4 separate regions of the Homo sapiens genome follow, and all the other regions are reported to be linked to region 1. Evidence: microRNA targets listed by miRTarBase, many of them from high-throughput screens and not tested one by one. Region 1 holds a microRNA gene; each other region holds the end of a gene's coding sequence.
What was found. The annotated mature microRNA hsa-miR-6515-5p reads UUGGAGGGUGUGGAAGACAUC and lies in region 1 at 3,679-3,699, shown strand. An mRNA with a match to its seed (bases 2 to 7 or 8) in the 3' UTR can be bound and repressed. Matches are read on the target gene's strand: a 7mer-m8 pairs with bases 2 to 8, a 7mer-A1 pairs with bases 2 to 7 and ends in A, and an 8mer does both.

Region 1 (7,121 bases):
GAGGAAGGGTCAGCAAGAGGCCTGGGATGGTCCCCGGGATCCTCATGGGGGGGACCAGACTAGGCAATACTGAATACTACCTAGAGGAAGTGGTAGAACCCCAACTTCCCAGTTCATTCTCCCCCGTCTTTTTTTCGAGATGGAGTCTTGCTCTGTCACCTGGGCTGGTGGGCTGGAGTGGAGTGGCGTGATCTTGGCTCACTGCAATCTCTGGCTCCCAGGTTCAAGCGATTCTCCCACCTCAGCCTCCCGAGTACTGGGATTAGAGGCACCCGCCACCACGCCTGGCTAATTTTTATTTATTTATTTATTTTTATTTTTAGTGGAGATGGGTTTTCACCTTGTTGGCCAGGCTGGTCTCGAACTGACCTAAAATGATCTGCCCGCCTCGGCCTCCCCAAGTGCTGGGTTTACAGGCGTGAGCCACTGCGCCCGGCCACCATTTCTTTTTTTTTTTTTTAACCAGAGACCCTTGCCAAGTCATTCCCCCCACTCCACTTTATTTTCCTTTTCATTTTTTCCTTCCTCTCTTTTCTGAGTCACAACCATTAGCCAGGAAGCACCCCCTCCCCACCCTCTTTCCTGGATCCCCCTCATTCCCTCCTTCCATAGTCCACTCCCGCGCTCCCAGGTCCAGGGCTTATTTGCCCAGAGTTTGGAAAACCCCCAGCTCTCCTTCCTCCTTTCTACAGCGTGGGGGCAGGGTACTGGTGCCAGTCACGTGCCTCTGGCTTCTGAAGAAGACTCTAGACTGGGGTCGGGGGGTGGGTCCTGCCCATCTCCCTAGCATCTTATCGTCCCTACCATCTGTGTCTTTTTTCCCTCCCCAAACGGAACCCCCTGCCCTCTCGCCTGCCTATAGCCGTTTAATTGCAAAAGCCAGGCCGTTTGTGGGAGACCACAGACAGCGACCCCCTTCATTTACCGGTTGAGAGGAGGGTAAAGGGGCGGCTGCAATCTGGGTAATAACCCTATCCCCACTCCAGAAGTCACAGTCACATCGTTAAGCCTTCCTCCCCTCTTGTCCCAGGACAGCTTTAAAAACGTTAAAAGCATTTCTGCTGGGTAGCATCTGGCCAGGGTCGCCCCCTCTGTCTGCTCAGGAACGTCTGTCACTTCAGAGAGCTTAAGTGACTTGCCCCGGTCACACAGCAGCAGTCCGATAGGCTGCCAGGGCTCTAGGGGCAGAAGGAGGAGAGGGCTGGCATTCTTCCCACCGGCCCGCGTGACTGTAGCACCGGGGTGCAGCGAAGCCCCAAGGGCCCCAATCCGTGAGCTCTCTCCCATCCCAGGCAGGGGTGGGGGAGCAGCAGTGGGGTGCTGGTTCTCAAATGCAAGATAAGAGCTGGCTAAGAAAGCCTTGCCCAGCCCCTCCACCTAGAGGGAATGGGAGGGAGAGAAGCTGAGGGCAGGGTCCCGGTCCCGCGTGGAGACAGCTGCGCTCCCGCGGTTTCTTTAAACGCCCAGATGGGCAACGACGCGCGCGGACGAGGGCGGGGTTGGGTTCAGGTCTGGTCACATGACCTGGCCTGAGGTGCTCGCGGCCCCCACCCCACCAGTGGGCGTCCCCCCCACGCGTGGTCGACCATCATTGGTCGGTGGTGAGGCCAATAGAAATCGGCCATCTGGGAACCCAGCGTTCCGAGGCGCAGCCTAACATAGTGAACCGACGAAGGTCCAATGGAAAAAGACGGCCATGGGCATAGACCAATGACAAAGTGGCAGGGGCGGGCCCAAGGGCTGGGTCAGGTTGGTTTGAGAGGCGGGTGGGTATAAAAGTGCAAGGCGGGCGGCGGCGTCCGTCCGTACTGCAGAGCCGCTGCCGGAGGGTCGTTTTAAAGGGCCCGCGCGTTGCCGCCCCCTCGGCCCGCCATGCTGCTATCCGTGCCGCTGCTGCTCGGCCTCCTCGGCCTGGCCGTCGCCGAGCCTGCCGTCTACTTCAAGGAGCAGTTTCTGGACGGAGGTAACGCCTGGTCCCGCCTCGAGGCCGCCCCGACGACGCGGCCGGCCCCCGATCCTGGATCTGCGTTGTCGCCCGTAATTACCGTTTAGAGGTCCAACACGGTGGCCTCCCGGGACTAGAGCCGCGGGCGATTTCTCTTCTGCGTCCCTGGGGAGCGCGGAGGGCGTAGCGGCCTCCCGCGGCGGGAGTTAGGGTTAGCCCGAGGATCTCTGAAGGCACCCGACGTGTCAAACTAGAGGTTGGAATGGGGAGTGTCGGGGATCTCCTTTCCTGTCCCCAGCAGCTTGTGGCTCTCGGCAGATGTTTGGTGTGGGGGGGGATTAGCACAGCCGCTCTGACCTACCCCTCTAATCCCCCACTTAGACGGGTGGACTTCCCGCTGGATCGAATCCAAACACAAGTCAGATTTTGGCAAATTCGTTCTCAGTTCCGGCAAGTTCTACGGTGACGAGGAGAAAGATAAAGGTAAGAGCCTAGGAGTGGGTGCTCAGATCCGGGAGGACTTCCTGGCAGAAGTCCTTGTCTGTACACACACAGCCGGGACAGTCCCCTTGGAGGAGGACAGGTGGAGGAAGTGGGGGAGTCTTCTCTATTCTCTAAGTCGAGGGTCCTCGCGAGTCAAGGCCCAACGGTGACCTCACTACCGTCCCGTCTCAGGTTTGCAGACAAGCCAGGATGCACGCTTTTATGCTCTGTCGGCCAGTTTCGAGCCTTTCAGCAACAAAGGCCAGACGCTGGTGGTGCAGTTCACGGTGAAACATGAGCAGAACATCGACTGTGGGGGCGGCTATGTGAAGCTGTTTCCTAATAGTTTGGACCAGACAGACATGCACGGAGACTCAGAATACAACATCATGTTTGGTGAGGGCCTGCTTCCTGGTGCTGATCTCTGTCCCATTAGTTAGAGGGAGACCCAGACCCCATTGACTTTCTTAATAATGATTTTTTTTGGAAGGGGAGCTAAAAGAATAAGTCCCAGCAACAATTTATTGCATTATGATCGCAGATCTAGGCTGTTAATTTAATTTGCGTGTTTGTATATAGTTATTTCCCAATCTTACTAATGAGGATTTTGAGTTCTAGAGCACTGATTTTTTTTTTTTCTCCTTTAAACTTAAGGCTCCACCCACAGCCCATTCAGGACAGAATCAGGGTCTGAGTTTCTCTTCTCAGCCTTGACAGACCCGAGTTGAAGAACCAGGTCTTCCTTTTATAAAGAGGGGTGAGAGCCTCGAGATGATGGGTAGTCTCTGACTCTTAACTGGATCTGCTTCACACCTAGGTCCCGACATCTGTGGCCCTGGCACCAAGAAGGTTCATGTCATCTTCAACTACAAGGGCAAGAACGTGCTGATCAACAAGGACATCCGTTGCAAGGTGTGCCTGGGGGTGGTGGCAAATGGCTGTCATGGGGAGATTCAGAGGTCAGCCTCATTGGGGGGTGGCCCCCGCTCACCTTCTTCCTTCTTCAGGATGATGAGTTTACACACCTGTACACACTGATTGTGCGGCCAGACAACACCTATGAGGTGAAGATTGACAACAGCCAGGTGGAGTCCGGCTCCTTGGAAGACGATTGGGACTTCCTGCCACCCAAGAAGATAAAGGATCCTGATGCTTCAAAACCGGAAGACTGGGATGAGCGGGCCAAGATCGATGATCCCACAGACTCCAAGCCTGAGGTTGGTGTTTGGGCAGGGGCTCTGCTCTCCACATTGGAGGGTGTGGAAGACATCTGGGCCAACTCTGATCTCTTCATCTACCCCCCAGGACTGGGACAAGCCCGAGCATATCCCTGACCCTGATGCTAAGAAGCCCGAGGACTGGGATGAAGAGATGGACGGAGAGTGGGAACCCCCAGTGATTCAGAACCCTGAGTACAAGGTGAGTTTGGGGCTCTGAGCAGGGCTGGGGCTCACAGTGGGGAGTGCACCAACCTTACTCACCCTTCGGTTTCCTTCTCCCTTCTGCAGGGTGAGTGGAAGCCCCGGCAGATCGACAACCCAGATTACAAGGGCACTTGGATCCACCCAGAAATTGACAACCCCGAGTATTCTCCCGATCCCAGTATCTATGCCTATGATAACTTTGGCGTGCTGGGCCTGGACCTCTGGCAGGTGAGACTTGGAGGAAAAAGGAGGATCCCTGGGGTACCTCAAGTGCATAAGATCACCCAAGAGGAAAGGGACAGGGTAGGCACCCCAGGTGAGTCTGACTCAAAAATGGTACTTCTTGTAAACAGTACTTCCTGGTCTGTCCCTGTGAAGTCCTCACAGCAACCCCTTTAAGGTTATACTTGCTGTGCACCAAGTACTTCCCCAAGTACTTTTATGCAAATCAACTTCTTTACCCCCAAAGACCTAGAAGGTGGTCAGGTAACCCAGTTAGTTAGCTGGGGCTGGGCACAGTGGCTCACCCTTACAATCACGGTACTTTGGGAGGCTGAGACAGAGGATTGCTTGAGGCCAGGAGTTACACAACTCAACCTAGCTTGGCAACACAGCGAGGAGACCCTATCTCTACAAAAAAAATTTTTTTTTTTGAGACAGAGTTTCACTCTTGTTGCTGAGGCTGGAGTGCAATGGCACGATCTCAGCTCACTGCGCCCTCCGTCTCCTGGTTTCAAGCGATTCTCCTGCCTCAGCCTCCGGAGTAGCTGGGATTACAGGCATGTGCTACTATGGATGCCAGGCTAATTTTTTTTTTTTTTTTTTTTTTTGAGACCGTGCCTTGCTCTGTCGCCCAGGCTGGAGTGCAGTGGTGTGATCTCTGCTCACTGCAAGCTCCGCACGACCCCCCAGGTTCACTCCATTCTTCTGCCTCAGGGTCCCGAGTAACTGGGACTACAGGCACCCCCCACCATGCCTGGCTAATTTTTTTGTATTTTTTTTTTTAGTACAGACATGGTTTCACCGTGTTAGCCAGGATGGTCTCCATCTCCTGACCTCATGAACCACCCACCTTGGCCTCCCAAAGTGCTGGGATTACAGGCGTGAGCCACCTCACCCAGCCTTTTTGTAGAGACAGGGCTTCATGTTGCCCAGGTTGGTCTCGAACTCCTGGCCTCAGGTCATCTGCCCGCCTCGGCCTCCCAAAGTGCTGGGATTACAAGGGTTAGCCACCATGCCTAGCCTCTACAAAAACTTTAAAAATTGGCGAGATGTCATGCATACCTGTAGTCCCAACTACCAAGGAAGAAGGATGATCACTTGAGCCTGGGGCATCGAGGCTGCAGTGAGCCATGATTATGTCACTGCACTCCAGCCTCGGTGACAGAGTGAGACCCTCTCAAAAAAAGTTGGGACTTGGCCGGACACAGTGGCTCACACCTGTAATCCCAGCACTTTGGGAGGCCAAGGCGGGTGGATCACAAGGTCAGGAGATGGAGACCATCCTGGCTAACATGGTGAATGAAACCCCATCTCTAGTAAAAATACAAAAAATTTGCCAGGTGTGGTGGTGGGCGCCTGTAGTCCCAGCTACTCGGGAGGCTGAGGCAAAAGGATGACGTGAACCCGGGAGGCGGAGCTTGCAGTGAGCTGAGATCATGCCATTGCACTCCAGCCTGGGTGATAGCGAGACTCTGTCCCAAAAAAAAAAAAAAATGCTGGGACTGAATTTTTGTCTGTTTTGGTCACTGAAATACCTTCTGTGCCCAAGACAGTTCTGGCATGTAGTAGGTACCTGAAAAATACCTGAATAAGAGAGTGAGAAACAAGAAACAGGTGCAGAGAACTGAAGTCAGTGGCCCAAGGTCATGGGGGTAGGAAACCACAAAGCTGGGGTTTGAACCTGGGCAGTACAGCACCTGAGTCTCTCCATCTTTTTTTTTTTTTTTTTTTAAGACAGAGTCTTGCTCTGTCACCCAGGTTGGAGTGCAGTGGCTTGATCTCGGCTCACTGCAGCCTCTGCCTTCCAGGTTCAAGTGATTCTCATGCCTCATCCTCTCGAGCAGCTGGAATTACAGGCATGCGCCACGACGCTGGGCTTTTTTTTTTTTGAGATGGAATTTCACTCTTGTTGCCCAGGCTGGAGTGCAATGATGCAATCTCGGCGGCTCACCACAACCTCTGCATCCCAGATTCAAGCGATTCTCCTGCCTCGGCCTCCTGAGTAGCTGGGATTACAGGGATGCGCCATCACAGACCCCGGGCTAATTTTTTTTAGTAGAGACAGAGTTTCACTATGTTGCCCAGGTTGGTCTCGAACTCCTGGCCTCAAGTGATCCGTTCGCCATGACCTCCCAAAGTGCTGGGATTACAGGCATGAGCCCGTCCCGTCCCTGGCTGTCTCTCCATCTTTCCATCTTTTTTTTTTTTTTTTTTTTTTTTGGAGATGGAGTCTCACTCTGTCACCCAGGCTGGAGTGCAGTGGCACGATCTTGGCTCACTGCAAGCTCCGCCTCCTGGGTTCACATCATTCTCCTGTCTCAGCCTCCCAAATAGCTGGGACTACAGGCACTTGCCACCACGCCTGGCTGATTTTTTGTATTTTTAGTAGAGACGGGGTTTCACCGTGTTAGCCAGGGTGGTCTCGATCTCCTGACCTCGTGATCCGCCCACCTTGGCCTCTGGGCGAGGATTACAGGCGTGATCCACCTCACCTGGCCTCTCCATCTTTTTAACTGCAGTGTCAGCGGTGTTCCTTGTCTTCTCTGCAGATGCAGGCAGCAGAATATAGTGGTTATAGGAACACAGGTGGAAACCCTGTCCAAAGCAAGGGCTATCGGGTATCACCTCTGACCATCCTTCCCATTCATCCTCCAGGTCAAGTCTGGCACCATCTTTGACAACTTCCTCATCACCAACGATGAGGCATACGCTGAGGAGTTTGGCAACGAGACGTGGGGCGTAACAAAGGTGAGGCCTGGTCCTGGTCCTGATGTCGGGGGCGGGCAGGGCTGGCAGGGGGCAAGGCCCTGAGGTGTGTGCTCTGCCTGCAGGCAGCAGAGAAACAAATGAAGGACAAACAGGACGAGGAGCAGAGGCTTAAGGAGGAGGAAGAAGACAAGAAACGCAAAGAGGAGGAGGAGGCAGAGGACAAGGAGGATGATGAGGACAAAGATGAGGATGAGGAGGATGAGGAGGACAAGGAGGAAGATGAGGAGGAAGATGTCCCCGGCCAGGCCAAGGACGAGCTGTAGAGAGGCCTGCCTCCA
Region 2 (7,121 bases), not on the chromosome of region 1:
AGCCAATAGTCTGAAAATCTAGCAACATAATTTGTAGTTTGTATCAATATTAGTGTTTCAGTTGAAAAACTAAAACAGTTCTGACTTGCAGTGCTTATATGTGTGATTACTTTGTTAATTATCTATCAAATACTATTTATACATCATCACTCTGAACCACATTTTCACTTCATGAACTATATCCTAACACATATGATGTTTGGCTCCTTTAGACTGTAATCTTTTGAGGAAATGAATTGGTGTTTCTTGTCACCAATTTGAAAGCATCTCTAATTCCTGACTTTTCCTTTTCAATACTATCATTATTTTTCTCTTACACAAACTTAAAACATATCCTGCTCCTTCATCTCTTATTATAAGTAGCTTACTAAGTCTCCAAAGCTCTCCTTTGGAGTACTCATATCACTTCATTCATCTCCATTCCTACTTGCACAGAGCCATTATCTCCACACAGAGACTTATGTAGTTAACAAATACTTTTTGATAAAATGTTAGAACAAATCCTGCTCTTATGTTTATATAGGCCCAGAAACACAATTATAAGCACTCTTGAGCACCTGTTAGAAATACTAAAGCTATGGGCAACTGTTACAAAAATACAGATAGTCTCTATGATGATTTTTTGAATTGATTTTAACTTTGAGTTCTTTCTTAGGATGAAATGCAGCCCTATGCCAGCTACACAGAGAAGAACAATCCTCTCTATGATACTACAAACAAGGTGAAGGCATCTGAGGCATTACAAAGTGAAGTTGACACAGACCTCCATACTTTATAAGTTGTTGGACTCTAGTACCAAGAAACAACAACAAACGAGATACATTATAATTACTGTCTGATTTTCTTACAGTTCTAGAATGAAGACTTATATTGAAATTAGGTTTTCCAAGGTTCTTAGAAGACATTTTAATGGATTCTCATTCATACCCTTGTATAATTGGAATTTTTGATTCTTAGCTGCTACCAGCTAGTTCTCTGAAGAACTGATGTTATTACAAAGAAAATACATGCCCATGACCAAATATTCAAATTGTGCAGGACAGTAAATAATGAAAACCAAATTTCCTCAAGAAATAACTGAAGAAGGAGCAAGTGTGAACAGTTTCTTGTGTATCCTTTCAGAATATTTTAATGTACATATGACATGTGTATATGCCTATGGTATATGTGTCAATTTATGTGTCCCCTTACATATACATGCACATATCTTTGTCAAGGCACCAGTGGGAACAATACACTGCATTACTGTTCTATACATATGAAAACCTAATAATATAAGTCTTAGAGATCATTTTATATCATGACAAGTAGAGCTACCTCATTCTTTTTAATGGTTATATAAAATTCCATTGTATAGTTATATCATTATTTAATTAAAAACAACCCTAATGATGGATATTTAGATTCTTTTAAGTTTTGTTTATTTCTTTTAAGTTTTGTTTGTGGTATAAACAATACCACATAGAATGTTTCTTGTGCATATATCTCTTTGTTTTTGAGTATATCTGTAGGATAACTTTCTTGAGTGGAATTGTCAGGTCAAAGGGTTTGTGCATTTTACTATTGATATATATGTTAAATTGTGTCAAATATATATGTCAAATTCCCTCCAACATTGTTTAAATGTGCCTTTCCCTAAATTTCTATTTTAATAACTGTACTATTCCTGCTTCTACAGTTGCCACTTTCTCTTTTTAATCAACCAGATTAAATATGATGTGAGATTATAATAAGAATTATACTATTTAATAAAAATGGATTTATATTTTTGGTCATGTTTGTAAGAGAGTGAATGCACGTGTGAGAACATTAGCTTCTTCTGAACTCATTATATCTCCACAGAGGTGTTGATACTTGATGCCTAACAGTTTTGCAGATGTGCTACATTGGAATTGTGTATTTTTATGGTGTACATTCTATTGTGATATATTTATTGAATAATTAATGTCTATTGACCATATAAGTGGCGAAAAATGCACCATAGAGGACATGGGGTATTTATTTACAAACTATGAGCTACATAATAAGCAAGTGGCCATGGGATGGCATGACCCTCCCCTCCATATTTTTGTGGAGCAAAATATTGGCAATGTTTATGTAAATCATTGTTAATATCATGAAATTATTTTTAATTAAAAACATAAGTCTATTTGCTCCATAGCAGAAAAAACATGAGAAGTTTTTTCATCATGATAGAAATTGAAACAAAATATATTCATTCTTCAATCATACCATCTGAGATTTTTAAGACAGCTATTTTGTCTTATAAGTATATTTTTCTCCCTCTAGACATTTCAGTTACTATGGATTTTGTCCTCAAAGGGACTTTTAGTCTATTTTGGATGTAAAGCTAATCTAATGACACTTGGCACATGATATTTTGATCAAGCCATTTTGACTTGACCAAAAAGCAGTGTCCATTAGGTTTCTGCATATAAATATTACCAAGCAATGTTCACAATAGACATCATTACACTGTCCTTGAAATTTATTAATTCTTCATCCAACCCTGGTTGAGCTGAGGCTCATAGTTAGGTTCAAGACTATCTGTTTAAATATTACTGAAAAACAAAGTAAGACAGTACTATGCTTACCTCTTAACTTGATAATGTCAAAACAGGCATGTTAAATGACATCATAGAAAAGACTTCAAGATAATTTATAGAAGTTAAATTATATTGTACAGAAAATAATTGTATGAAAATCTCTACTATGGGGCTGGAACATGGTTGAACATTAGAATGATATAAAAAATTATATATATTCTCCAAATCCACGCTAGACCTGTCAAATTAGAGAATCTAGAGATTAGACCTGGCGTGTCAGCAAGGTCATCCAGGAAGCAGAGGCTGAGACGGAGTTAGGTGTGATTACTTACATAGTCGATTACATTTTACAAATAACATTTTATATGTCTCATTTACTGTGCTTTCTCCCCATCCCATTTTGTATCTTTTCCTTTGCTTTGCTAGATTTGTCAATTTTCTCTCTCTTTCTCTGTCTCTCTCTCTTTCAATATCTCTAATAATTTGAAAGTAATTCATCATAACTAAATATCTATTGGGGTTATGCTTCACTTACAAACTTCTGAAAACGGCTTTACTGAGATATAATTGATATATTTAAGTGTACAGTTTGTTAAATTTTGCACATATTTAAAATGTGGACTTTGGTAAATGTTGACATAGTTTTACATCTGTGAAACCATCAGCATAATCAAGATAATAAACTTGTCCATCACCCCCCAAAATTTTCTTGTTTCTTTGTGAGCCTATCCCTACAAACTTCTTGTTCCTCCTCATCCCCCGCTCCCCAGGCAACCTCTGATCTGCTTTCTGTAACTATGTATTAGTTAGCATTTTTTAGAATTTTCCATAAATAAAATCATGTAAATATCATCACAATAGACACTCTTTTATTTTTTTGGTTGGACTTTTTTTCTCATTATAATTATTTTGAGATACATCCACATCCACACAATGATACTGCATTCTTTTTATTCCAAATAGTATTTAATTTTATAGCTATACCAGTTTGTTTATCTGTTTGCCTGTTGGTGGACATTTGTGTTGTTTCCAGTTTTGGGTTATTAGAAATAAAGCTGCTATACACATTATTTTGCAAGTATTTTTGTTGACATATATTTTTATTTTTCCTGAGCAAATACTGATGAGTGGATTGGCTAGATCAGATGATATGTAGATGTTTCACTTTTAAAGAACTTGCCAATCTTTGTTTCTTTTCTTTTTTTAATTTTTTTTAAAGTAAACTTTTAATTTCAGATTAGTTTCATTTATTATTATTATACTTTATTTTATTTATTTATTTATTTTTTTTTTTTTAATTATACTTTAAGTTTTAGGGTACATGTGCACATTGTGCAGGTTAGTTACATATGTATACATGTGCCATGCTGGTGCGCTGCACCCACTAACTCGTCATCTAGCATTAGGTATATTAAGTCCTGGGATACATGTGGAGAAGGTGCAGGTTTGTTACATAGGTATACACGTGCCATGGTGGTTTGCTGCACCCATCAACCCATCATCTACATTAGGTGTTTCTCCTAATGCTCTCCCTCCCCTAGCTCCCCACCCACCAAAAGGCCCCAGTGTGTGATGTTCCCCTCCCTGTGCCCATATGTTCTCATTGTTCAACTCCTACTTATGAGTGAGAACATGCGGTGTTTGGTTTTCTGTTCCTGTGTTAGTTTGCTGAGAATGATGGTTTCCAGCTTCATCCATGTCCCTGCAAAGGACATGAACTCATTTTTTATGGCTGCATAGTATTCCATGGTGTATATGTGCTACATTTTCTTTATCCAGTCTATCATTGATAGGCACTTGAGTTGGTTCCAAGTCTTTGCTATTGTGAACAGTGCTGCAATAAACATACGAGCGCATGTGTCTTTAAAGTAGAATGATTTATAATCCTTTGGGTGTATACCCAGTAATGGGATTGCTGGGTCAAATGGTATTTGTAGTTCTAGATCCTTGAGGAATTGCCACACTGTCTTCCACAATGGTTGAACTAATTTACACTCCCACCAACAGTGTAAAAGCATTCCTATTTCTCCACATCCTCTCCAGCACCTGTTGTTTCCTGACTTTAATGATCGCCATTCTAACTGGCGTGAGATGGTATCTCATTGTGGTTTTGATTTGCATTTTTCTGATGACGAGTGACGATGAGCTTTTTTTCATATGTTTGTTGGCAGCATAAATGTCTTCTTTTGAGAAGCATCTGTTCATATCCTTTGCCCACTTTTCGATGGGTTTTTTTTTTCTTGTAAATTTGTTTAAGTTCCTTGTAGATTCTGGATATTAGCCCTTTGTCAGATGAGTAGATTGCAAAAATTTTCTCCCATTCTGTAGGTTGCCTGTTCACCCTTATGATAGTTTCTTTTGCTGTGCAGAAGTTCTTTAGTTGAATTAGATCCCATTTGTCAATTTTGGCTTTTGTTGCCCTTGTTTTTGGTATTCTAGTCATGAAGTCTTTGCCCATGCCTATGTCCTGAATGTTATTGTGTAGGTTTTCTTCTAGGGTTTTATGGTTTTAGGTCTTAGGTTTAAGTCTTTAATCCATCTTGAGTTAATTTTTGTATAAGGTGTAGGAAAGGGGTCCCGTTTCAGTTTTCTGCATATGGCTGGCCAGTTTTCCTAGCACCATTTATTAAATAGGGAATCCTTTCCCCATTGCTTGTTTTTGTCAGGTTTGTCAAAAATCAGATGGTTGTAGATGTGAGGCATTATTTCTGAGGCCTCTGTTCTGTTCCATTGGTCTATATATCTGTTTTAGTACCAGTACCATGCTGTTTTGGTTACTGTAGCCTTATAGTATAGTTTGAATTCAGGTAGCGTGATGACTCCAGCTTTGTTCTTTTTGCTTAGGATTGTCTTCGTTGTATGGGCTCTTTTTTGGTTCCATATGAAATTTAAAGTAGCTTTTTTCCAATTCTGTGAAGAAAGTCAATGGTAGCCTGAGGGAGATAGCATTGAATCTATAAATTACTTTGGGCAGTATGGCCATTTTCATGCTATTGATTCTTCCTATCCATGAGCGTGGAATCTTTTTCCATATGTTTGTGTCCTCTCTTATTTCCTTGAGCAGTCGTTTATAGTTCTCCTTGAAGAGGTCCTTCACATCCCTTGTAAGTTGTATTCCTAGGTATTTTATTCTCTTTGTAGCAATTGTGAATAGGAGTTCACTCATGATTTGGCTCTGTGTTTGTCTATTATTGATGTATAGGAATGCTTGTGATTTTTGCACATTGATTTTGTATCCTAAGACTTTGCTGAAGTTGCTTATCAGCTTAAGGAGATTTTCGGCTGGGACGATGGGAGTTTTCTAAATAGACAATCATGTCATCTGCAAATGGAGACAATTAGACTTCCTCTCTTCCTATTTGAATACGGTTTATTTCTTTCTCTTGCCTGATTGTCCTGGCCCGAACTTCCAATACTATGTTGAATAGGAGTGATGAGAGAGGGCATCCTTGTCTTGTGCTGGTTTTCAAAGGGAATGCTCCCAGCTTTTTCCCATTCAGTATGATATTGGCTGTGGGTTTGTCATAAATAGCTTTTATTATTTTGAGATACGTTCCATTAATACCTAGTTTATTGAGAGTTTTTAGCATGAAGGGGTATTGAATTTTATCAAAGGCCTTTTCTGCATCTATTGAGATAATCATGTGGTTTTTGTCATTGGTTCTGTTTATGTGATGGATTACGTTTATTGATTTGCTTATGTTGAACCAACCTTGCATCCCAGGGATGAAGCTGACTTGATCGTGGTGGATAAGCTTTTTGATGTGCTGCTGCTGGATTCAGTTTGCCAGTATTTTATTGAGGATTTTTAGCACCGATGTTAATCAGGGATATTGGCCTGGAATTTTCATTTTTGTTGTGTCTCTGCCAGGTTTTGGTGTCAGGATGATGCTGGCCTCATAAAATGAGTTAGGGAGGAGTTGCTCTTTTTTTTATTGTTTGGAATAGTTTCAGAAGGAATGGTTCCAGCTCCTCTTTGTGCCTTTGGTAGAATTTGGCTGTGAATCTGGCTGGTCCTGGGCATGTTTTGGTTGGTAGGATATTAATTACTGCCTCAATTTCAGAACTTGTTATTGGTTTATTCAGGGATTCGACTTCTTTCTGGTTTAGTCTTGGGAGGGTCTATGTGTCCAGGAATTTATCTATTTCTTCTAGATATTCTAGTTTATTTGTGTGGAGGTGTTTATAGTATTCTCTGATGGTAGTTTGTATTTCTGTGGAATCAATGGTGATATCCCCTTTATCATTTTTTTTTTGTGTATGTATTTGAGTCTTCTCTCTTTTATTCTTTATTTTGTTAATCTTTTCAAAAAACCAGCTCCTGGATTCTTTTTTTTTTTTTTTTTTTTTTTTTGACAGTCTCACTCTCTCACCAGGCTGGAATGCAGTGGCATGATATTGGCTCACTGCAACCTCCACCTCCTGGGTTACAGCGATTCTCCTGTCTCAGCCTCCTGAGTAGCTGGGACTACAGGCACACACCACCATGCCCAGTTAATTTTTGTATTTTTAGTAGAGACAGGGTTTCACCATGTTGGCCAGGATGGTCTTGATCTCTTGACCTCATGATCTGCC
Region 3 (7,121 bases), not on the chromosome of region 1:
CAGACGATGGGGTTTTCTAAATATACAATCATGTTATCTGCAAACAGGGACAATTTGACTTCCTCTTTTCCTAACTGAATACCTTTTATTTCTTTCTCCTGCCTGATTGCACTGGCCAGAACTTCCAACACTACGTTGAATATGAGTGGTTAGAGAGGGCATCCCTGTCTTGTGCCAGTTTTCAAAGGGAATGATTCCAGTTTCTGCACATTCAGTATGATATTGGCTGTGGGTTTGTCATAAATAGCTCTTATTATTTTGAGATGTGTCCCATCAATCCCTAGTTTATTGAGAGTTTTTAGCATGAAGGGCTGTTGAATTTTGTCAATGGCCTTTTCTTCATCTACTGAGAAAATCATGTGGTTTTTGTCTTTGGTTCTGTTTATATGATGGATTACATTTATTGATTTGTGTATGTTGAACCAGATTTGCATCCCAGCGATGAAGCCAACCTGATCGTGGTTGACAAGCTTTTTGATGTGCTGCTGGATTCGGTTTGCCAGTATTTTATTGAGGATATTTGCATCAATGTTCATCAGGAATATTGGTCTAAAATACTCTTTTTTTGTAGTGTCTCTGCCAGGCTTTGGTATCAGGATGATACCGGCCTCATAAAATGAGTTAGGAAGGATTCCCTCTTTTTCTATTGATTGGAATAGTTTCAGAAGGAATGGTACCAGCTCCTCCTTGTACCTCTGGTAGAATTCAGCTTTGAATCCATCTGGTCCTGGACTTTTTTTGTTTGGTAGGCTATTAATTATTGCCTCAATTTCAGAGCCTGTTATTGGTCTATTCAGGGATTCAACTTATTCCTGGTTTAGTCTTGTGAGGGTGTATGTGTCCAGGAATTTATCCATTTCTTCTAGATTCTCTAGTTTGTTTGTGTAGAGGTGTTTACAGTATTCTCTGATGGTAGTTTGTATTTCTCTGGGATTGTTGGTGATATCCCCTTTATCATTTTTTATTGCATCTATTTGATTCTTCTCTCTTTTCTTCTTTATTAGTCTTGTTAGCGGTCTATCAATTTTGTTGATCTTTTCAAAACACCAGCTCCTGGATTCATTGATTTTTTGAAGGGTTTTTTGTGTCTCTATCTCCTTCAGTTCTGCTCTCATCTTAGTTATTTCTTGCTTTCTGCTAGCTTTTGAATGTGTTTGCTCTTCCTTCTCTAGTGCTTTTTATTGTGATGTTAGGGTGTCAATTTTAGATCTTTCCTGCTTTCTCTTGTGGGCATTTAGTGCTATAAATTTCCCTCTACACTGCTTTAAATGTGTCCCAGAGATTCTGGTATATTGTGTCTTTGTTCTCATTGGTTTCAAAGAACATCTTTATTTCTGCCTTCATTTCGTTATGTACCCAGTAGTCATTCAGGAGCAGGTTGTTCAGTTTCCATGTAGTTGAGCAGTTTTGAGTGAGTTTCTTAATCCTGAGTTCTAGTTTGATTGCACTGTGGTCTGAGAGACAGTTTGTTAAAATTTCTGTTCTTTTCCATTTGCTGAGGAGTGCTTTACTTCCAACTGTGTGGTCAATTTTGGAATATGTGTGATGTGGTGCTGAGAAGAACGTATATTCTGTTGATTTGGGGTGTAGAGTTCTGTAGATGTCTATGAGGTCTGCTTGGTGCAGAGCTGAGTTCAATGCCTGGATATCCTTGTTAACTTTCTGTCTCGTTGATCTGTTTAATGTTGACAGTGGGGTGTTAAAGTCTCCCATTATTATTGTGTGGGAGTCTAAGTCGCTTTGTAGGTCTCTAAGGACTTGCTTTATGAATCTGGCTGTTCCTGTTTTGGGTGCATATACATTTAGGAAAATTAGCTCTTCTGGTTGAATTGATCCCTTTACCATTATGTAATGGCCTTCTTTGTCTCTTTTGATCTTTGTTGGTTTAAAGTCTGTTTTATCTGAGACTAGGATTGCAAACCCTGCTTTTTTTTGTTTTCCATTTGCTTGGTAGATCTTTCTCCATCCCTTTTTTTTGAGCCTATATGTCTCACTGCACACGAGATGGGTCTCCTGAATACAGCACACCATTGGGTCTTGACTCTTTGTCCAGTTGGAGCATTTAGCCCATTTACATTTAAAGTTAATATTGTTATGTGTGAATTTGATCCTGTCATTATGATGTTAGCTGGTTATTTTGCTTGTTAGTTGATGCAGTTTCTTCCTAGCCTTGATGGTCTTTACAATTTGGTATGATTTTGCAGTGGCTGGTACTGGTTGTTCCTTTCCATGTTTAGTGCTTCCTTCAGGAGCTCTTGTAGGGAAGGCCTGGTGGTGACAAAATGTCTCAGCATTTGCTTGTCTGTAAAGTATTTTATTTCTCCTTCACTTATGAAGCTTAGTTTGGCTGGATATGAAATTCTGGGTTGAAAATTCTTTTCTTTAAGAATGTTGAATATTGCCCCCCTCTCCGCACTCTCTCTGGCCTGTAGAGTTTCTGCTGAGAGATCTGCTGTTAGTCTGATGGGCTTCCCTTTGTGAGTAACCTGACTTTTCTCTCTGGCTGCCCTTAATATTTTTTCCTTCATTTCAACTTTGGTGAATCTGACAATTATGTGTCTTGGAGTTGCTCTTCTCGAGGAGTATCTTTGTGGCGTTCTCTGTATTTCCTGAATTTGAATGTTGGCCTGCCTTGCTAGGGTGGGGAAGTTCTCCTGGATAATATCCTGCAGAGTGTTTTCCAACTTGGTTCCATTCTCCCCGTCACTTTCAGGTACACCAATCAAACGTAGATTTGGTCTTTTCACATAGTCCCATATTTCTTGGAGGCTTTGTTCATTTCTTCTCTTTTTTCTCTAAACTTCTCTTCTCACTTCATTTCATTCATTTGATCTTCAATCACTGATACCCTTTTTTCCACTTGATCAAATTGGCTACTGAAGCTTGTGCATGCATTAAGTTATTTCTCGTGCCATGGTTTTCAGCTCCATCCGGTCATTTAAGGTCTTCTCTACACTGTTTATTCTAGTTAGCCATCTGTCTAATCTTTTTTCAAGGTTTTTAGCTTCTTTGCGATGGGTTTGAACATCCTCCTTTAGCTTGGAGAAGTTTGTTATTACCAATCGTCTGAAGCTTTCTTCTCTCAACTCATCAAAGTCATTCTCCATCCAGCTTTGTTCCATTGCTGGCGAGGAGCTGTGTTCCTTTGGAGGAGAAGAGCTGCTCTGATTTTTAGAATTTTCAGCTTTTCTGCTCTGGTTTCTCCCCATCTTTTTGGTTTTATCTACCTTTGGTCTTTGATGATGGTGATGTGCAGATGGGGTTTTGGTGTGGATTTCCTTTCTGTTTATTAGTTTTCCTTCTAACAGTCAGGACCGTGAGCTACAGGTCTGTTGGAGTTCACTGGAAGTCCACTCCAGACCCTGTTTGCCTGGGTATCGCCAGTGGAGGCTATAGAACAGCAAATATTGCAGAACGGCAAATGTTGCTGCCTGATCCTTCCTCTGGAAGCTTCATCTCAGAGGGGCTCCCAGCTGTTTGAGGTGTCAGTCGGCCCCTACTGGGAGGTGTCTCCCAGTTAGGCTCCTCGGAGGTCAGGGACCCATTTGAGGAGGCAGTCTGTCCGTTCTCAGATCTCAACCTCTGTGCTTGGAGAACCACTACTCTCTTCAAAGCTGTCAGATAGGGATGTTTAAGCCAGCAGAAGTTTTTGCTGCCTGTTGTTCAGCTATGCCCTGCCCCCAGATGTGGAGTCTACAGAGGCAGGCAGGCCTCCTTGAGCTGCAGTGGGCTCCACCCAGTTCGAGCTTCCCAGCTGCTTTGTTTGCCTACTCAAGCCTCAGCAATTGTGGACGCCCCTCCCCCAGCCTTGCTGCCACCTTGCAGTTCGATCTCAGACTGCCATGCTAGCAGTGAGCGAGGCTCTGTGGGCATGGGACCCTGTGAGCCAGGCGCAGGATATAATCTCCTGGTGTGCCATTTGCTAAGACCATTGGAAAAGCGTAGTATTAGGGTGGGAGTGTCCCGATTTTCCAGGTATCATCTGTCATGGCTTCCCTTGGCTAGGAAAGGGAATTCCCTGACTCCTTGCACTTCCTGGGTGAGGCGATGCCCGCCCTGCTCTGTTGGCTGCACCCACTGTCCGACAAGTCCCAGTGAGAGAAACCCAGTACCTCAGTTGGAAATGCAGAAATCACCCATCTTCTGCATTGCTCATGCTGGGAGCTGTAGACTGCAACTGTTCTTATTTGGCCATCTTGGAACATCCGATATATAACACATTTTTATAAGTTACTTGGTAAAATTGTTTGAAATGACTGTTGTAAAAAGTGAAAAAAAATTAATTACAAATCTCAATATTCCTGAGGTACAATCATTATTTCACATTTTACAAATTAAATGTATAAAACATAATACACACACTACACCCTGAACAGTAAACTAGCAGTAATGTTTGAGAGGAAACTATTTAAGTAACTGAAATCGTTTATACAGATTAAATTTATAATTCACAGGAGGGGAACTCCATTCATCCTAGAAGGCTCAGCCCGTGGCACCCCTCCTGTGGTGGTTTCTCCCATCCCTATTTCCCCAGGCACAATCAGATTTACAGCCCTTTCTGCTCCCATTGCACCTATTCCATGCTCTATACCTACTGCGGAATTGTATGTTAACTCTTTGCCTCTTTACAGTTCCTCCTGCCCCCACCAGTCGACTATGAGAACCTTTGTTTTATCTACTTTGATTTTCCTGTCCTTAACACAGTGCCTAGGATTCATACATTGATTGGACAGGATTTTATTGTCAATTATGAGCAATCGTATGACCAAGTTGAGCAAGATAAACCCTGCTCTAGATTAGACTACTAGTTCACAGTCTAGTAGGGGAGAAAGTATGTACACGAATCATTAACATGCAGAGTGATACATTAATGAAGGTATATACCAGGTAGAGCAGTGACTTTGCCTGGGGATGTATTCCTGAGGAAGTAACTAGTCAGCTGAGCTGTTCAACAAGCATTAGGCATTAACTCTGCTGGTGATGTGCTGGATGGCTAGTGAATAGAAAATTGAATAGAAAGAGCATTTACCTTCCCTCCAAAGATATACAATCTTGAATGAATAGTTCGAGTAACAATGGCACGGGTAGTCAATAAGGTAGCAAGGCTGATAGCCAATGGGGTAAACTGTTAAAATATTGAACTCTTCTATACCAGTGGTAAATAGCAGTCACTACCAGCACCTGTCTATTTGTTCTTTACTCTACCTCCCCTCAGTACTCCCAATCCCCTCCTATATGACCCATAGACCCTCCTGTGTTCCAGCAAGTAAAGAGTCAATACCCTTATGTACTAAACATTTTACACATAATTCCAAGGGATGCACTTTGCCAAGAAAGAAAAAAATTACAAGCTTTGAAATAGCAGTATTTGGTAAACTGCAGTTAAAAGCCAGGGTATGAAGTTCGAGTTGGGGAAAAGAGAAAATGGAACTGAAGAATTGAGAAGGGCAATGAAGAGCCACAGAAAAATTTTAAGCAGATCTGTTTTAAAAAAAATTCTGTCCAACATTAGTATGTAAGTGCTCATTAATATTTGTTGAATATGATTATGCTAATAATAATTTACACAAACCTCTAACCAATGGGAGAAAAAGAAGCTTTCATAAACATGGACTTAGATGCAGGGAATTTATTCCATTATCCATACAAATTACAGACTCTATGATTCTACTGTAACTTTGCAATTGGTGATTTCAGTATTACAGACGTGAATACTGAGAAATAATTAGGGGAAGAAAATCAAACGTGGCTGATCTGGACTGTTTTTTCTTCTATTTCACTCAGAACTTTTAAACACATAGTATGACTAAATGCGGATAAAGGGGTTTACCCATCATTGTGAATAGGCATGAGATCACTCAGAAATGTTGGATTACAAAGGGCCAATAAGAAAGGCTTGACTGTATGCAAGTGTCGACAGAATGGGTTCTCCATTACTTTGATTCCTTATTTTCAGAAGAGATAAGAAATTCCTCATTAATGGATGTACTCAATGAGAATTAAATACTCAAAACAGGACCTTAGCAAATCATTGTTTTATTTTAACATCACTGTTTACTGTTCTTCCTAACTGGCAGTTACTCCTTTGTAGATAGTACAAATCACAATGTAATTCCCATCATTATGTGTATAATATGTGTTCCTTCTTGTTCTACCTTAACAGCAAGTGACAAATACATCATTTTTATTGAATATTAATTTTCAATTTATTTCAGCAGCAAGCACCAAAATCAAAACCCAACAATCAATATAATAAGTATATGTAACAAATAATCTGAAATTCAGCCCCATTAAGACATGTGGGTGCAATATTTTTATATTCCCAAAGGTCTGCATATTTTGGGGGCATTAAACAACAGGGAACTAAAATTTAACACAAAATCAGGTGCCATTTAATACTGTTTAACATTTGAAAATTATTTATTTAATAATACAGATCGTTTTAATGTGCTGTAAATATTTCTCGCACAGCATCATATTGTCAGAAGTTTTTCCCTTTTGGAGGCTTCTTTTTTCCATTCCTTTCCAGTAACTGGCCTCCCAATGCCAGCAACTCAGGTAGATTCATGCAGTCATTCCTCTTCTCTCTGTACTGGTAAGCGCTCTGGAGGAAGAACAGATTCCAATTTCTGCCAGCGCTCTGGGGGCCACAGGATATGTGTGGCATGGGCATGCAGAAGTCCTAGGGAAACCTTAATTCATGAGAAACAGAAAGAAAGCAATAAAGAGATCATTTTATAAGAATCATTATTAATAGCTTGAAAGCAGAATTTAATCCAGGTTTAACATCCCAGGGAGAAGTGATGATGAATAAAAAAAATAGTAAACACCTTTTGTAGCCATTGAAATACAAAGAAAAATACAGTAAGCACTTATATAGCATTTTTCTAGGTGCTATTGTATATAAACTCCTTTAATCCTCACAAAAACCATTTGAAGTAGGTTCTGTTAGTATTTCCCTTTTAGAAATGAGAAAGCAAAGCTCAAAGAGGTTAAAAAATTTGCCAAAATTCATACAGCTACCAAGCGGTTAGTCTGTGTTTAGAACCAAGCAGTTTGACTCGAGTCCACCATCTTAACCATTAGCCTCAAGAGCCTATTTGCATAGACCCAGGAAGCAT
Region 4 (7,121 bases), not on the chromosome of region 1:
ACGCCAAATGAGTTCAGTGCCCAGACTTTCTACGCGCTTAGCCCTACTATGCACAGTCAAGCAACACAGGTGCCAATTAGTCAAAGCGATGGCTCAGCAGTGGCAGCCACCAACACCATTGCAAACCAAATAAATACGGCACCCAAGCCAGCAGCCCCAACAACTTTACAGATCCCACCTCCTCTCCCAGCCATCAAGCATCTGCCCAGGCCAGAAACTCTGCACCCTAACCCTGCAGGCTTACAGGAAAGCATTTCTGACGTCACCACCTGCCTTGTTGCCTCCAAGGAAAATGTTCAGGTTGCACAGTCAAATCTCACCAAGGACCGTTCTATGAGGAAAAGCTTTGACATGGGAGGAGAAACTCTGTTGTCTGTCTGTCCCATGGTGCCGAAGGACTTGGGCAAATCTTTGTCTGTGCAAAACCTGATCAGGTCGACCGAGGAACTGAATATACAACTTTCAGGGAGTGAGTCAAGTGGCTCCAGAGGCAGCCAAGATTTTTACCCCAAATGGAGGGAATCCAAATTGTTTATAACTGATGAAGAGGTGGGTCCCGAAGAGACAGAGACAGACACTTTTGATGCCGCACCGCAGCCTGCCAGGGAAGCTGCCTTTGCATCAGACTCTCTAAGGACTGGAAGGTCACGATCATCTCAGAGCATTTGTAAGGCAGGAGAAAGTACAGATGCCCTCAGCTTGCCTCATGTCAAACTGAAATAAGTTCTTCATTTTCTTTCCAGGCATAGCAGTTCTTTAGCCATACATATCATTGCATGAACTATTTCGAAAGCCCTTCTAAAAAGTTGAAATTGCAAGAATCGGGAAGAACATGAAAGGCAGTTTATAAGCCCGTTACCTTTTAATTGCATGAAAATGCATGTTTAGGGATGGCTAAAATTCCAAGGTGCATCGACATTAACCCACTCATTTAGTAATGTACCTTGAGTTAAAAAGCCTGAGAAACCAAACACAGCTAATGCTATGGGGTGTATGAATATGTCAAGTTTAGGTCATTTAGAAGATTTGACACTGTATTTTGAAATTATGGGAGTAAACACCTTCAAATTTCAGGCATTTCTGCTTTGTGACTAAATACAAACTACATTTTCAAGATTAGGCCATAATGTATATTTAAACACAATGGCTATCAACAGCTGCTAATAAGGTATCAACTAAAGCAGAATTGGGGAATAATAGAAATGGCTGCTTATTTCAAGATATATTTGCCAACCCATTCCTATTCAGTCATTTTATTATTAATGTAATTTGAATGTCAATTTGTGTGCTTTTGGTGATTTAGCGCTGTGGCAAGCAATTTTGCACATCATTTTCATGTTGTTCTTTATGACAAGAATGTTCTTCAATTAGAAAATGTGCAAATAATGAAATTCAGGGCCAGTGAGGCAAATAGACTATCTGACATATTTGACTTTATGAAAACATATTGCCTGATGGCAGAATCAACTTTATAAGTGGTCAACTTCTACACAAGCGTATGAAATACTGGTCAGTAGAACAGCCATTGTGATTGGACTGGTTTCTCTGCAATGGCGCCAACCCCAGGCTTGCCAATACTGCCTATGTAAAGGGCAAGTGTGAGAAGCTATTCTCATTTCGCTGACATACAGGTAGGACTATGGGGGATGGGACATTTGAGTGGGACTGAGATAGGAAAGGCTTGAAAAGAACCCAGAAACACCACCAGGAAGTTGGCAAAGTAAAAGAAAATGACTTCCCCCTCAAAGGGCAATGAGAGGGAGAGAAACAAACCAAAATAGAAGAACTAGACTTTTTAGAAAATGAGTATTGCTAGGGAATTCAACTACCTAATCTTCCCTTATTCTTATATATAAGCAGAGAATTTTTGCAAGGTATTTATTTTTTAATATGCCCTGAATGTCTTTTGCTATTATGTGTACATTTTGCATATGAAAGTCTAAAACGAAACTTCCTTTACTTTTTATACTGTAGTGAAAATTTTCTATTCTTCCCAAGAATGTTGTCCCAAATCTGAAATTACTGGTTCAATTTCCTGATATAAACATTTACAATTAGAAGCTAGATAGTACTGGCAGAGTCTGCAAATCAGAACACTTAAATATATCATGGCAGCAAAAAGACCAAGGGAAACAAAATGACAAATGTATTTATCAGAAAGCAAGCAATGCTGACTGCTTGTTAGAAACCCATCTAGCTATCTTAGGTCACCAGAACTTCAGCCAACGTAATGACATTCAAAAAAAAAGGACATAAGAGATAGCATTTCAATTCAATTAAACCCTAGCCACAGGAGGACTCAAGAAAGGAAGTTGTTTCCTTGGCAGACATAAATGCTGCCTCCAGAAGTACTTCTCCAGCAGCCAAGCAGAATGAGCAGGGTTATCAAGTGGATGTTCAAAGGAAGAAGGAGGCCCTGAACTCCACCAATCCTCCCCAGCCCTCCCCAACAGGCTTTCTCCATCATTGACTCTCCCCTGCTTTTCTTCTTCATTAACTCCTTATTCATTCCCTGCCAGTATTTTGCTTCTGAACTTCACCAGGCCTTAACCAGCCTCCATCCCCAGGTCAACCAGTTCTCCGCTTTACCTAAAATGTGCTTCTCAACCTTTTAGAACCTTGTCCCTTTTGATAAACATGGAAATTTTTAAAGCTTCCTCTTCGCATCCCACTTGGATTCTAAGACAATTAGAATCATTTAGAATCTTTTTGGCTGCTGGAAATGTATAGAAGATAGAGGCTAAATTTTACACTTCAGTTAAGACATTGTCAATCCTTTTAAGCAATTGTTTTCATTTTCAAAATACAGAATGTTAGTAAATTATGAAAATCAATTTTTCATCTTCATTCAACCTGAAGTTGTGATTCCCCCTTGCAAGAATGTTGCATACACACACACACACACACACACACACACACACACACACACACACACACACACACACACACACCCCTCCACTGACCTAAAGCCAGACACCTGCCGTGACTGGGCAGGCTCTCTCCCATTATTAACAGAGGAAGAGGAGGGAGGCAGCAACTTTCAGGTAGCACTGATTCTTGGACATACTCTGTCCTGGGTCAAACCCCACTGGCAGCAGGAATTCTGAATGTATTGGGGACCCCTCCTTAGGCCTCGTTAAGTCTCAAACACAGTACAGCTCACCCAGCATTGCTGACGACTGAAGATTCAGAAACAAAACCTACACACAGCACTGAGGTCTTAATCATAGCAAAATGTGATAAACCATGTTGTGAAAAACTTTTATACATTGAAGCCATGACCATTTTGTGTCTATCTTACTCTAGCACAAAAATTGGGGGATGTTAAAAGATAGTTGTGTGGAAGCTATAAGGTTCTGTCTGTCGTGTTACTCTCTGTGGAAATGAGAGGGGTCTCCCATTTACACTAAGCAAATTTCCATTGGTCAATTTTAATGATGTCTTGAAGCACAATTTAGCTGAGCACTGAGTAGCCATATGCTTTCTGAGTACAAGTGTGTCTGCCTTCTTCAACATGTAGGGTTGATCAAGCTAATACTTAATTGCAAATATCCCTTGTATGAGGTTAACTAAAAAAATTTTGCTATGTCTGATCTACATGTTTGCATTTTGTTCAACTAAATTAATATTTGTAGATTGCAAGTTTTGTTTAAAATAACTTTATTGAGTTTTTAAGTCCTGATCTGTTCTAAGGTGCCTTTCTCACCTCCCATTGATTCAGTGATTCTGAAGTTCTTAATTTGCAAGTAAAATAAGTCTACTAGAGAGGAGGAAATCAGGCACAAATTGACCAATTCTCATGCCATTTGCAAAGCAAAACTGTAAGGATGATGAAACCTGGCTAACTAAATTAATGGATCATTTCACTAAATCAGATAGAGGAAATATCATAAATATTAACTTGTCTCCCTAGAAGCTGAGATTTTTCGCCTTAAATGACATGGTTGTGTTTTTGTAAGAGAAACTTAATCTAATCTAATAATGTGCATTTAAGTAAGCAGTTCTAAGTCATGTATGACAATGCAATTGTCTGTTTCCTGAAAACAAATAAATCGGGAACACCATATCCATTTCAAGCTATCATTAAAGTGTAATTTCCTTTGCTCTCTTTTACTGGGATTATTTGTTTTAAAGTAAAACATTAAAAAGATGTCTATAAACAGCTAGTGTGACTATTTTTATCTGGAACTAACTAGTTGGTTCTGAACTGACTGGACCAAGTCAACCAAACTGACTGTATACAGATTTTGGACTGAAATATAAAAATTATCTTTTTGCAGTGTTACGGAAGAAGTCTTTGGTATTTTGGGAAGGGGGGAGATTTGCATATGCTCCTGGGGTTTTTGTGAGAACTATTAATTTGAAATTGATTGTAACTCAGATACCACGCATGTGAGTTTTGTGTTATCTATAATAAAGGGATTTGCTAAACAATGTTAAGAAATGGGGGCCAGGTGGGTGCCCAAATGTTGCAGCCTCTGGCTACTCAGAACTACCATTTTAAGCACCTACCCAGCTCTGCCTCACCAGGGAAGGGCTTCTGCTCCAAAAGGACCTTTTTTTCTTCTTCCCTAAAAAAAATCCCATTTTTTCTATTTCACTAGCAATTTTGCACTAAGTGCCAAGGGTTAATCCCAGTGGAATTATTTTCAAAGAGATACAGAATGTTAAAACTCTGGAATACAAAGCAACAAAGCCCGATAGAGATGTTTTAGACAGGAGGAAGAATTACAGAGTGTTATCCTAGAGGGAAGAAAGGGCTTCCCACTACTGCTCTAAAGAGATCAAATAGTTATGTGCCTGTTCTATCAACTTCTAGATGAGGGAAAAGAAAATTGTGTATGGTATATGCTTGCTTGACCAACTTAAAAATGTTAAACCGCTTCCAAACATTTTTGGAAATACTTTAGCAGTACTTCCCACTCCTTCCATTTAAAGCAAAATATACTTACAACAGTTATTCTATCCTAACCATTCATGAAAATGGGCTGCCAGATCTTCAAGTGACAACTTCTATCAGTCTAGATTCAACTGCTTTGAGAATCTGGTACAAGTAAAAATTGTTTCTTTGAAAAACTTAAATTTTATCTCACACAGCTCTGAGATTTGAAAACAAAATAGAAATCTAAAAATGTTTTTAAAATAAAAATAGGCTGAGCACAGTGGCTCACGCCTGTAATCCCAGCCCTTTGGGAGGCCGAGGTAGTTGGATCCCCTGAGGTCAGGAATTCAAGACTAGCCTGACCAATATGGTGAAACCCCACCTCTACTAAAAGTACAAAAATCAGCCAGGCGTGGTGGTGTGCGCCTATAGTCCCAGCTACTCAGGAGGCTAAGACAGGAGAATTGCTTGAACCCGAGAGGCAGAGGTTGCAGTGAGCCAAGATTGCAGAGATCACACCACTGCACTCCAGCCTGGGCAACAGAGTGAGACTCCATCTCAATAAATAAATAAACTAATTAATTAAATAAAACAAATTTTCATTAACTGCGACAAGACTTCTCCCTCTAGCCCACCTAATTCCAAATTACTGAAGTTTTTGCTACATTTCAAAACAGAAACGTAGCAGATACATTATGCACAAACTATCGATTTAGGCACTGCTCTGGAAATCACAGCACCACAAAAACTGGTGAATGGCAAAACTTTCCTGTTCAAATAAATAGGAAGGTCAAAGGTACATTGATATGATATATTACTCTTTGCCTAGTCATATGATTTACTTCTTTTCTGTCACAATGTTGGCGACTATTTTAAGTCCAGTATGCTCTAGGATAGATATCAGGGTTCTAGGGTTTCCATACACTGTCATAACACCTGCACCTACTTTTAGAACTTTTCACTTGTATGCTTTTTTAGGTTTTTTTGGTTTTGTTTGTTTGTTTGTTTTGTTTGATTGTTTTTGGACACAGTCTCTCTCTCTGTCACCCAGGCTGGAGTGCAGTGGTGCAATCTCAGTTCACTGCAACCTCTACCTCCCAGGTTCAAGCAATTCTCGTGCCTCAGCTTCCTGAGTAGCTGGGATTACAGGTGTACACCACCATGCCCGGCTAATTTTTTGTGTTTTAGTAGAGACGAGGTTTCACCATGTTGCCCAGGCTGGTGTCAAACTCCTGAGCTCAGAGGATCCACTCGCCTTGGTCTCTAAAAGTGCTAAGATTTACAGGCATGAGCCACCGTGCACAGCAGCTTTTTTTATCTTTGGTGACACTCATCTCTTTCCATTACTTGCTGCTTCTTCCTTCTCTGTTCCTTTGCCTGCATTGCTGTGACTCACTTCCTGTATCACCAATCCCTATCCATTCCTGTGCCCCCCAAGTAACTAGGTACTCACACCCTCCCCTTGCTGCAGCTCAGGGTGCCACTCACCCTCACTTAAGCCATGAGGACATCACACCATGCACACCCCCAACACATAGATGCTTTTCAGAAGTGCTGGCACTGGCGCTCCTCATCTGAGCCCTCTGGCCAATGCTGCAATGCCCAGTTCTACCCCCGCTACCAGAAATCCCTCTGCTTGCTTGGTGGGAGAGGAGGCAAACCCCACTCCAGGATGGGAGCTCCTTGCTCTCTTTTTTTTTTTTTTTTTTTTTTTTTTTTTGAGACAGGCTGGGGTACTGTGGCACGATCTCGGCTCACTGCAACCTCAACCTCTCGGGTTCAAGAAATTTTCCTGCCTCAGCCTCCCTAGTAGCTGGGATAACAGGTGTGTGCTACCACGCCTGGCTAATTTTGGGGTTTTATTTTTTGTTGTTGTTGTTGTTGTTTTATTTTTCTGAGATGGAGTTTTGGTCTTGTTGCCCAGGCTGGAGTACAATGGTGCAATCTCAGCTCACTGCAACCTCCACCTCCTGGGTTCAAGCAATTCTCCTGCCTCAGCCTCCGGAGTAGCTGGGATTACAGGCATGCAACACCATGCCCACCTAATTTTTGCATTTTTAGTAAAGACGGGGTTTCACCATGTTAGCCAGGCTGGGTCTTGAACTCCTGACCTCAGGTCATCCACCCTCCCCCGCCTCCCAAAGTGTTGGGATTACAGGCGTTAGCCACCACGCCTGGCCTAATTTTTGTATTTTTAATAGAGATGGGGTTTTACCATGTTGGTCAGGCTGGTCTTGAA

Region 2: the mRNA of CD200R1 is a reported target of hsa-miR-6515-5p. Seed matches in the 3' UTR shown: 8mer at 1,606-1,613 and 7mer-m8 at 2,057-2,063.
Region 3: miRTarBase lists IMMP2L as a target of hsa-miR-6515-5p. Seed matches in the 3' UTR shown: 7mer-A1 at 6,499-6,505.
Region 4: miRTarBase lists KCNQ5 as a target of hsa-miR-6515-5p. Seed matches in the 3' UTR shown: 7mer-m8 at 2,952-2,958.

The regions. Positions count from the first base shown.
Region 1 is chr19:12,936,808-12,943,928 of GRCh38, forward strand. It overlaps MIR6515 (microRNA 6515), which reads left to right and starts at 3,677; the gene lies at 3,677-3,733. CALR (calreticulin) reads left to right here and starts at 1,802. Exons shown (of 9, transcript NM_004343.4): 1 at 1,802-1,963; 2 at 2,327-2,428; 3 at 2,621-2,824; 4 at 3,246-3,340; 5 at 3,436-3,645; 6 at 3,734-3,847; 7 at 3,937-4,080; 8 at 6,730-6,822; 9 at 6,906-7,121. The coding sequence starts at 1,873. The coding sequence ends at 7,106. RefSeq lists enhancers at 1,244-1,353, 1,424-1,473, 2,100-2,849, 2,144-2,193, 3,086-4,285 and 1 more and a cis regulatory region at 1,404-2,042.
Region 2 is chr3:112,917,334-112,924,454 of GRCh38, reverse strand. CD200R1 (CD200 receptor 1) reads left to right here. Exons shown (of 8, transcript NM_138806.4): 8 at 656-3,250. The coding sequence ends at 778. Among named protein-coding and RNA genes, the nearest start is that of CD200R1, 54 kb to the left of the region's middle.
Region 3 is chr7:110,657,030-110,664,150 of GRCh38, forward strand. IMMP2L (inner mitochondrial membrane peptidase subunit 2) reads right to left here. Exons shown (of 6, transcript NM_032549.4): 6 at 5,615-6,692. The coding sequence ends at 6,573. Among named protein-coding and RNA genes, the nearest start is that of LRRN3, 430 kb to the right of the region's middle.
Region 4 is chr6:73,194,692-73,201,812 of GRCh38, forward strand. It overlaps KCNQ5 (potassium voltage-gated channel subfamily Q member 5), which reads left to right. Exons shown (of 14, transcript NM_019842.4): 14 at 1-4,162. The coding sequence ends at 723. Among named protein-coding and RNA genes, the nearest start is that of KHDC1L, 27 kb to the right of the region's middle.